Linked DNA regions of Homo sapiens: region 1 is linked to region 2. Evidence: fine-mapped expression QTL. A gene starts in region 2. The other region holds a variant in brackets. All regions are shown on one strand. Distances are between the middles of the regions. Region 1 overlaps LOC101929174 (a long non-coding RNA gene). Region 2 holds the start of CTSC (cathepsin C).

Region 1 (5,384 bases), 38 kb before region 2:
CATCAGAAACCTTAGCATCTTGCAATACAGTATATGTTGGGACAAAACGATTATGGTGTATAGGATACTGTGAAGCAGAGGCTGGAAAGCTGAAAATCACATTATCCAGATTCCCTTGAAGCTGAGATTCTGGATATGTTTATGTTTCACCAATCAGATGCACAAGAGTGAAATCTGAATTTAAATTGTTTTAAGTACATAGAAAGGCCAGGTGTGAGACCTCTATTTTGCTGGTGTGGGTCACAACAAAACAGAGAGGGTATGGAACTTTCTGTAGCAGCAGCTTCTCAATTCAATAATCAGATTCCTGATTATGATGGAAAGAGAAAAACCCTTAGAGACACAGTTCTGTTATGTGGTTTTCCAAGTGATTTTTGGAAGTTCTGCCTAAAAGTCTGTTATTTCATTTATTCCCCAAATTCTGTTAGCCATTTAGCACACATTTATAATTTATTTCTCCTAGAATTATCTACAGTAGAGTCAGTACTCTGCAACCAAACACTGACTGACAGAATCAACTAATACAAGAGAACATATACTTGGGAATAACTGTATAATAGTCCAAGTCAAAAGTTTCCTGGCTGATCTGAAATTATTAGTGAACTGAGAGATGTTTGCATAAGTGTTTAAGAATAATGGATTTCTTTTCAGTAGGACTTCTGAACATTTTTAAATGGTTAATTTATCTTTTAAATCACACTATACAGCATTTCCTCCAATGTATTTGACCAGGAAATTAACTGTTCATTTCAGGGGAAATCTATTAACAGCTGGAGAAACACAGAGTTTGTGAAACATTGGTCTCATGTATTGCCCAGCAATCTGAGCCAACAACCTTTGCTTTTGTTCCAAGTCTATTTGTTCCAAGCAATTTATTTAGACTTTTATTTTCCATACATCTTATTGTCATGCTATAGTAAGTGTTTTTCTAAATAGGAATATCAATCTCCAGCCAGTTGAAAACAGTATACATTCTTTCATTATAAGTTGATGACATTATTTGCTTGAACAAATAAATTCCTTTTCAGCCTGCATAAAATTAAAAAAATTAGATGTAAAGGCAAAACCAGTTTATTTCCAGAGCTGACAGAAATGAAAGGGAAAATAATGAGAAGATAAATAGATTTTGTCTTTATTTTCCAGTTTTTTTGTAGATTTAAATGAGTTTAATGGGGGTAAGACTTGTAAAAGTCAGAAGGAACTCTGAATGTGTTTGAGATGAGAAAATATTTAACTACTAGAAAATCTTGGGCACTGAGATCATCCTTAGCTATACAAAATTAATGACATCATTGTGTAATGTGCTAAGTACTATCATTTTCTAGAGTAAAGAGAGGAGTAATTTTAGCTTACAATGGTAAGGAAAGCAATCGCAGAAGATGCGATGTTAAAGTTCCAGTAGGCTTATTACAGCTAGAGTTGACTAGGGTAGAATAGAATGTAAACAAGATGATTGAGGGTGGGTCAGTGTGATTGCAGACCTGGATATAATTTCTACAGATCTAATGAATTCTGAAAAGCATAATCAAGTCTCACTACTTGACTATGTATCATAATGTAAATCAAATGCTTAGAAAAGTGAAATAAAATCTGTGTCAGTATTATGATTAATTACCATGAATAAACTTAGATGATATTGTTACAATTACAAAATTATAAAATTTTAGAATTAAAAAGAATTTTTGAAACTATGTTATTCAAATCCTATACCCATCTTTCCACCTAAAATTTAATTCAGTTCAAAAGAAGAGGGGAAAAAATGGTAGCTATATTAGACTAAGTTGGCCACAATAAAAAAGTTAAAAAAAGATAGGCTAAAAAATACTCAAAGAAATAATGGCTAAAAATGTCCCAAATGTGGCAAAAGACACAAACCTACATATTTAAAAAGCTGAACAAACCCCAAAGATGAACATTGTATAATAGAGGCTGTTGATGTCCTGCCAATATTCTCTTTGCTACCCACTGCCCTGACCCCTCCAGTTGCTGGAAGTAGCAGTGTTGTCTACCACCCACAGTTTCTCCCTTCTGTAAAGAACTGTCCTTGGTCAATGGCAGCCTCGTTGCTCAGGAGGTCAGCTAACCTCACTGTCCATCCCTTGGACCTTGGCAAAAAAAAAAAAAA[AC/C]CCAAAAAAAAAAATGACTGATGGAGGAGTACCAAAGGCCACTGCCTTACTCCAAGGGGATATTTACACTGTAGCAGACTTTTCTCCAGAGATTCTGTGAAATTAGAATGAAGCTAGTCTCAATCTGAGACAATATTTTGTTAGCTTTTTTCCCATGCCCATCTTGCTGTCTCTACTCACCTCCTCATAAGAATATGGAGAATAGCTAGAACTGTATTAATGAAGCAGTAGGATGCTAACTACAATAGTCAGGGAAGCCCTCCTGGGGATAAAATGCTTAGGCTTCCATATGAATGAAAAGGAACTAGCAGGAGCAAGTTCTCTTTCTGTTCAAGAAAAAAACACAGTGTTGTTGAAAAACAGTGAGTAAGAGGAAAAGTGAAAGAAGTTATGATCAGAGAGGTGGTCAGAAGCCATATAGACCACGGTAGGAAATATATATATATATGTAAAATATATGTATGTGTATATATATATGTGTATGTGTATTATATGTGTATATATATACATATACACACACACATATATATAATACATATATACCTATACACGCACACATATATATAACACACACACATATATATATATTTAAAAGTACATTGGCTGCTCTGTGAGGATGGAGTTTAGAAAAGCAGGAGTTGAAGCACAAAGACCAGTTAGGATGCTAATATGATAATCCAAATGGCTTGGATGCACATAGACATGCTGCAAAAGGAAAGATTCAGAATATACTTGAGAGGTACAAATGATGTCACTTGCTGCTGCATTGGGCATGGGAAGTGAGCAGAAGAAAGCAATCAAAAACAACTCCTAAGTTTTTGGCTTGAGCAACTGAGCAGATAATGGTATCTTCTACTGAGATGAGGGAGTTTATGGGAGAAATAGATTTGCTGAAGGTGGATGAGAGTTAACAGTTCTTTTTTGGAAATGATAAATTTGAAATGCCTATTGATATTCAAAGTGAAAATGTCATGAATTTAGTTGTGTATGCAAGGCTGGAGCTCACAAAAGATGTCCAGATGGAAATTTGGAAGACATCAGCATACAAGTAGTACTTAAAACCCTATTACTGGAGGATCTTTTCTATAGGAAAAAATGTAAGAAGGCAACAGAAAGAATCTGAGACTCAACCCTAAAGTACATCAACAGTTAGACATTGAATACGATAATTTAAGCCAGAAAAGGAGACAGAATGAGGTCTCAGTGAGGCAGAAAAAGAAATGTGCGGTGTTAAGGAAGGCAGAATAAATAAATGTTTCAAGAAAGCAGGAGTGACTGCTGGTCAAGAGTTCTTAATAGGCTAAGTCAATGGTAGAGAAGTAACCACTATACTTGTTCTCTTGACTAGAGCTGATTGAGGGTAGTAATGGGAACAAAGACCAGGGTAGGTGTATGTTGAGGAGGGAGTGAGGTGGGTGGCAGGTGGCGGAGAGACAGGGAGTCAAAGAGGTTTATTTGTGCTTCTTTTTATATAACTACTAGAGAGTCTAAATGATAAAGCAAATAATTTAATAAAGAGTAAAATAGCTGATGAGAGAGACAGAAACACACGAAGATTAGAGGATTCGTGAAAATATAAAAGAGTGGAATCAAGAGCTAAAGAAGAGAAGGGGCCTTCAAAGAAATAGCATCTCATCTCCCATAACAAAAGGAAAATAATAATAATTTCTAAATTATCCTTGCTAGTATGTAAAATTACCATGCATTTTTGTATACTGGCCTTATCAATCTTTTTTATTTTTATGTTTCAGTTTGAATAATTTCTATGGACATCTTCCAGTTTACTTTTTTTCTCAGCTGCATGCAGTCTGATTATAAATATTCAATGTTATTTCCCTTATCTTTTTTTAATTTCTAGCAATTCCACTTGATTATATTTATTGTTTCTATCTCTATGCTGAAATTCATCTCTTTGTGCATGTCATTCTCCTTTTTCTTTAGGTCCTTTATTATATTAATCATAGTTATTTAAATGTTCCAGTCGGAGAGTTTCAACTATAGTTTCAGCTATCAGACTCAACTCTGAATCTGATTTTTCTTGCTTCTTTTTTTTTTTTTTGTTTGTTTGTTTGTTTGTTTTTTGAGATGGAGTCTCACTCTGTCACCCAGGCTGGAGTACAGTGGTGCTATATTGGCTCACTGCAAGCTCCGCCTCCCAGGTTCACACCATTCTCTTGCCTCAGCCTCCCGAGTAGCTGGGACTACAGGCACCTGCCACCACGCCCGGCTAATTTTTTGTATTTTTTAGTAGAGACGGGGTTTCACCATGTTAGCCAAGATGGTCTTGATCTCCGGACCTCATGATCCGCCCGCCTTGGCCTCCCAGAGTGCTGGGATTCTTGCTTCTTATTCTTGACAATGGGGTCATTCTTTCTTGCTTTTGTGGGTACAGAACATAATTGTTACTAAATACTGGTAATTGTATGTGGAAAAACAGCAGATACAAAAGTAAATAGTATTTACTCTTGGAAATGTGTGTACCTCTACTTCTGAGTTGAGTCAATCTAGTTAGTAGTTAGACTAGATTTGGTAATTGTTTTTGCTATTGTTACCTGAAGTGTACCACACACTTCCAATTCCTCCAGTGATAGAATATGTACATTGTGCTTAGAGTGGTTCCTTGGGTACCAGAACGTTTTTTTCAGTATTGCTGATCCATCCCCTGCTTTCAGCCATTCTCTACCACAGAGAGAATCTCTTACCATCCTTTGTCCTGGTCCCAGTTGGTAGACTATTATTGCTGGTTACTCAGTTTGAAGCTCTTGGAGAGAAGATGAGATTCTTGGCTCTAATGACCCAGTCTCAGTCTTAGGCAGATCCTATACACCCGGGCCTTGAAGCTTTGGCTTTTCAGCATTCCTGCTCCCCTTTTCCCCCTGGATCCTGCCCATACTCCAGTTGTAGCAGACCTCTGCTTTGTATCAGTCCAGGAACCTGGGCCCAAAAGTTTTCTTTCAAATTTCCAAGAGGTAGAGATATTTTAATTCTACCCTTCTCCCAGAAGGAATGGGTCTTTTTCTGGGTCCTGGAGAAAGAAGGTTTTCCTACCTTTTATGTTATCACTTTCATATAAGCAGAGGACCTTTTTCTGGCCCTTAATGTTGGAGGGGTTGTTGCCTCTTTCTCAGTGGCTTAGTAATTTGTTTTATTTGAGACATGAATCCAGAGAAGTGAGTGGTAATTTCCAACTTACCCCAGTGGCAATCAGTCACTATCTGCTCATCTGCACACTGGTGCCACCAAGGGTCCTGCATCCAG
Region 2 (5,384 bases):
GTTTAGGGGTCATGTGGCCTCTGGCTCCAAGAGTCTGCACCCTCCCACCCTCCAAGTTGCTTCTGGGGATAACATCTCTATTGTAAAATCTAAGATCAGTGCTTGAGATATTTTACAGACCCTGCACTCCATAGATCAGCTGACACCACTGAGACCAGCAATCTGGCTCAACCATATCTGCCATCCCACCCAGGAACAGAAGATAGCAAGAAAAACTCACTTAGACCCCCTATGATTCCATCTCCAACCTAACCAATCAGCACTCCCCACTTCCCAAGCCCCTACCCACCAAATTATCTTTGAAAACTCTGATCCCTGAATGCTCGGGGAGACTGATTTGAGTGATAATAAAACTCCCGTCTCCCCCACAGCCGGCTCTGTATGAATTACTCTTCCTCCATTGCAATTCCCCTGTCTTGATAAATTGGCTCTGTCTAGGCAGCAGGCCAGGTGAATCCATTGGGTGGTTACAGAAGTGTGAAGAGCAAGTATCTGAGTGCCTCATTATGTTTTCCAACACAGTCATACTTGAACATTTTACATGATGGGATATAACTTATTATACTAGAAATATATTTAAAATATCTGATTTCTTCTTTATATTACATTTGGCATTACATTTCTTTTTATTAAGTGTGTAAGCAGTTTATATATTAATTTCATTTCAGAAAGTAAAGGATTTGGGGTCTGATCAGTTTGAGAATCAATTTTTTGTGTGTGCGTGGAATGGAGAGTTAGTAGTTATTTTTGAGAGAGAACAGTATGGGAATTATTAGATTAGTAGAAATAAACTAAACTGAAAATCAATGTGCCTGAGGTTCATTCTTAAATCTTACTAAGTGGCAATATGACATTCAGCAAGTGATTTAACTCTCTGAATCTCCATTTCCCAATTTTAAAATGAATCCATTAGACTAAGAGGTCCACAAGATCTTTTTCTATTATTCAATCATTGAATAAAGACTGTTTTAAACTTTCTTTACAATTAAGTGTGTTGCTTTGATTACATTCATCAAAGAAATTTCCACCTAAACTGGCTCTTCAATATTGATGACCTAATACAAATTTAATGTTTTAACAATCAGTAACACACCTTCCTAGAGATTCAGGAAGGGAAGCTTAATCTGTCAGGGTATCTTTAAATAAATAGTGTGTTAGCTTAATTATACAATGTCAGCTTTCAATTCTAAGAAGGTATATAAAACCTAAAAGCAAGGTGTTCCCCAACCCCCCGCCACCAACCCCGCCCCAGGCTTTGGAAATTTGTGCCCCCATTGAAGAGTATTTTCACCTCTGAACTTTCAAGGACAACTCCTTTTGCCTCATTGAAACTGGCTTTCAAGCTTGGCAACCAAGATAAGAATATTAAGTACACTTATTTTAACACTCAAGGACACTTTCTGAATAAACCAGAATCTAGGGAGATATAAGTGAATAATTTGGACCTGCTCTCTTTGAATGTTTATAATCTGGTGGAAAAAAAATGGACATATGAATATTGATTTGTGACCAGTGCAAAGGGGGCAAAAATTCATATCCCAAAGAAAACGGGGACACATCAGGTCTGTCTTGTTCATCACTGTGTCCACAGGGCCTGACACCTAGTAGGCTCAGTGGGAGAAAGGAGCCCCAATTACCAACAAAAGCCAGGAAAGAACGGGAGGCTCTTACGGAAAAGGGTGATACTTAAACTGAGCAAGGAGGCACCTGGAAATAGTGCCACCTAATAATTTTTGGCGATCAGACTGACACACTAGAACGGTTCATAAGACCAGCCTTCTCCCATTGGCTAGCTTCCTTCCTCACCCTTCTCACCCTGGGCAAGCCGCTTCCTCTCTCTGGGCCTCTTGCTTTTCCTCTGTAACATAAAAGGGGTTGAGCAATATCATCTCTGAGAGCGCCATGTGTGTGCGTGCCAGAGGGAAAACCCCCACAACGCTAATACATCAAAACTGCAGGTTTGCACAAAAACTGAATTCTGCTGAATGCAAACAGGCAAACAGCATTTACCAGGAAACAAAACAAAATCAAGCACATAAAAAAGTAGGAAGAGTTGGAAAACGGAAGGAAGATAAGTTCTCAAACAGCTGGAATAGTTGATGTTAGCTAGCGAAGTTTTTCAGAGGAAAAAACAAGAAGTTGGTTATGAGGCAAGTGGACCTGAGAAAAAAGACTAAAGGGGAAGAATAGCAAGTAAAACAGAACTCCACTTGCTAGATCTCTCCCTCTGTCGCGCTCTTTCACCTGACCCACTCCCTTATTCCCCCCACACCCTTTCCTTCTCTCCCTACGTTACCGCACAGGAACGAAGTCTGGGTCATGTGCGGACCGCTTGTGGCTCTTAAATCCTCTTTTTGTCACCCTGGCCGTGCAAAATTTTGAAACGTCCCTCGGCAAAAAAAATAAAAATAAAAAAAAAAAATCTGTCCCTGGCCTCTTCCCTAGTTCTGGGTCCAGTTGCAGCCAAGTGAGGGGCAGCGCGCGCTCCCAAGTCCCCGTTTCAGAGACGCGCACGCGCCTGGCGCCCAACCCCCAATCCCCTGCTGCTCAGTGACCCCGCCCACGGGTTTCCGGGCCGGCGTAGCTATTTCAAGGCGCGCGCCTCGTGGTGGACTCACCGCTAGCCCGCAGCGCTCGGCTTCCTGGTAATTCTTCACCTCTTTTCTCAGCTCCCTGCAGCATGGGTGCTGGGCCCTCCTTGCTGCTCGCCGCCCTCCTGCTGCTTCTCTCCGGCGACGGCGCCGTGCGCTGCGACACACCTGCCAACTGCACCTATCTTGACCTGCTGGGCACCTGGGTCTTCCAGGTGGGCTCCAGCGGTTCCCAGCGCGATGTCAACTGCTCGGTTATGGGTAAGCCGCCGGCTCGGCAGTCCTCCGGGTCGTCCTTTCTGCCCTTGAGCCCCTAACGCAGCGCCACGCCAACTACCGCTTCCCCCCAGGCAGACGCTTGTGGGTGGCCAGAGCATCTTGACTGGATTCGGGGACCCTTGGGGACCTTCTTCCCCGCCAGGCTCGCGAAGTTAAAGTTCATCTGCTGAGAACTTCTAACTCCACACTTTCTTGGTTATCTTGGGGACTCAACACTTTGATCAAGAACTTTTTTATTCCTCCCGCTTAATTTTGTTTGCTTTGAGAGAGACTTGGGAACTGCAATCGTTTGGTTCTCCAGTCCGATCTGGTAGCGTTATTTTTAAAATTTATTTTTATTTTTTATTACTATTTTACTAGTGAAGATAGATGAGCTCAGAGACTCTCGAGGATATAGCATGAAGTTTTCTCTTTTTGTTAGATGGTGGGAAAGGGACTTTCTGCCCAGCGATTTTGGTTTGAGCGGGTGTTGATGAGTACTAGAAAACGGCTAGTACCACTCTGCATTGTTTCATGCATTGCAAGGAGGTAAAAATTTTTTAAAAAATTAATAACAAAGAAAACTTAACTCTGAACCTAGTAATTAGAAATGCCCAGAGTCTGCACAATGTTTGGCTCATGGAAGGCTCTCAATAAATACCTAGTGTTTGAACATACTGGAGATATTCCATATGCCTTCAGATAACATGGTTACCCCTAGAACAAAGAACCTAGTGAAGGGGGTGGGGTGGAAAAAAGACAATCACTAGTTAGAAGAGTCACACTGTGGTCTACCCAAACCCTCTTACAGCCTGTGACTTCTGCAGAGTCAGTAAAAAATCAGCTATAATTTTCTTGTCAACAGAACAAAGATTAAGTCATTTGTTACTAAAGAAATACCTTTTTAACTGACTGTATAGCATTTCATAATCCTGAACATTGTAACTTTTTTTTTTTTTTTTTTGAGAATGGAGTCTTGCTCTGTCACCCAGGCTGTAGTTCAGTGGCGGGATCTCGGCTCACTGCAACCTCCGCCTCCCGGGTTTAAGCGATTCTCCTGCCTCAGTCTCCCGAGTAGCTAGGATTACGGGCACATGCCACCACGCCCGGCTAATATTTTGTATTTTTAGTAGAGACGGGTTTCACTGTGTTAGCCAGGATGGTCTCCATCTCCTGACCTCGTGATCCGCCCGCCTCGGCCTCCCAAAGTACTGGGATTACAGGCGGGAGTCACCACGCCTGGCCTTTTTTTTTTTTTTTTTTTTAAATTTGAGTTTGAAGGTTGGGGCAGAAAGAGATCAGGATTTGCACTGCCCTGTCACATGCAATCTCCCATGTCAGAGCATTACTCTCAAACATGGAAAAACTTTAAAATACACAACTCTCCAGATGGACACAGCTGAATCATTTTCAGGAAGGCTCTGCCTATAAAATTACCTTTGGCCTTAATTCAGTAATTAAAGGCACCCACAGGTCTGAGCCCTCATCTATGAAGGTTAAACGTATCATTCCTATCAGCACTAATTGGTTTTATAGGATACAGACCTCTAGTTTGCTGAATAAACTTTGGAAGGATTCAGATTATGAGGTTCTAAACTGTAGAGCCTTTGAGGAGAAAGGTACCCCATTTCTTCTCCGAATAGATCATTTTGTGTCTTCTCCTGGGCTTAGCACATTGTCTTCCTTAGGATCTGATAGTCTGTTTATTTATCTTTTTGTTGTCATACCTTTTATTCTTGCATTTCCCACTTTTGACTAGCATTTTGCCTTTTCTCCGTTTCTGGAAGCCTGTAATTTTCAACATTCCCCATTTCTCCTTTTGTTCAGTGGAAAAATTTCTTCAGTGTTGGGATGCTCTGGAAAGGTACTGTAGTTTTGGGGGTCTCCCTGCCTGCTGGGCTGCATAGCATATCTCTCTTTTTTGAGACAAGGTCTCACTGTGTTGCCCAGGTTGGAATGCAGTTGTGCAATCATAGCTCACTGCAGCCTCCAACTCCTGGGCTCAAGCAATCCTTCCACCTCAGCTTCAGCCGCTCAAATAGCTGGGACTACAGGCAATGCACCACCATAACCAGCGAATTTTTAAAAATTATTTTTGTAGAGACAGGGTCTCACTATGTTGCCCAAACTAGTCTTGAAGTTCTGACCTCAGCCCCGCAAAGTGCTAGGATTACAGGCGTGAGCCACTGCTTCTGCTTGCATTATCTCAAATTTTTAGAGCCTAACTTCACAGTCTTGCCTCGGAGCAGGAACTGTTTGAGGCAACAAGATGGAGCCTCTGGTTTCTTCACTAGGCAGACTGTGCTCAAACTGGGTAGCATGAAAGGAAAGCAGCACAATTAAAATTGAAATTGGGGGATTCTTTCCCCTATTGAAATCCAAATAATTTTCCTTTATTGTGCTTTTTTTTTTTTTCTTTAGGACCACAAGAAAAAAAAGTAGTGGTGTACCTTCAGAAGCTGGATACAGCATATGATGACCTTGGCAATTCTGGCCATTTCACCATCATTTACAACCAAGGCTTTGAGATTGTGT

The links. PIP is the estimated chance that this variant, and not a neighbour inherited with it, causes the effect. A credible set is the group of variants that fine-mapping cannot tell apart.
Region 1: its variant is the best candidate, but not a certain one, in a credible set for the expression of CTSC in whole blood (INTERVAL, PIP 0.51).

The regions. Positions count from the first base shown.
Region 1 is chr11:88,373,263-88,378,646 of GRCh38, reverse strand. It overlaps LOC101929174 (a long non-coding RNA gene), which reads right to left. Exons shown (of 5, transcript NR_188511.1): 2 at 5,320-5,384. Among named protein-coding and RNA genes, the nearest start is that of CTSC, 38 kb to the right of the region's middle. The variant AC/C (reference allele first, on the strand shown) is at 2,126.
Region 2 is chr11:88,334,969-88,340,352 of GRCh38, reverse strand. CTSC (cathepsin C) reads left to right here and starts at 2,617. Exons shown (of 7, transcript NM_001814.6): 1 at 2,617-2,852; 2 at 5,271-5,384. The coding sequence starts at 2,681. It overlaps LOC101929174 (a long non-coding RNA gene), which reads right to left and starts at 2,469. Exons shown (of 5, transcript NR_188511.1): 1 at 2,297-2,469. RefSeq lists an enhancer at 2,622-2,901.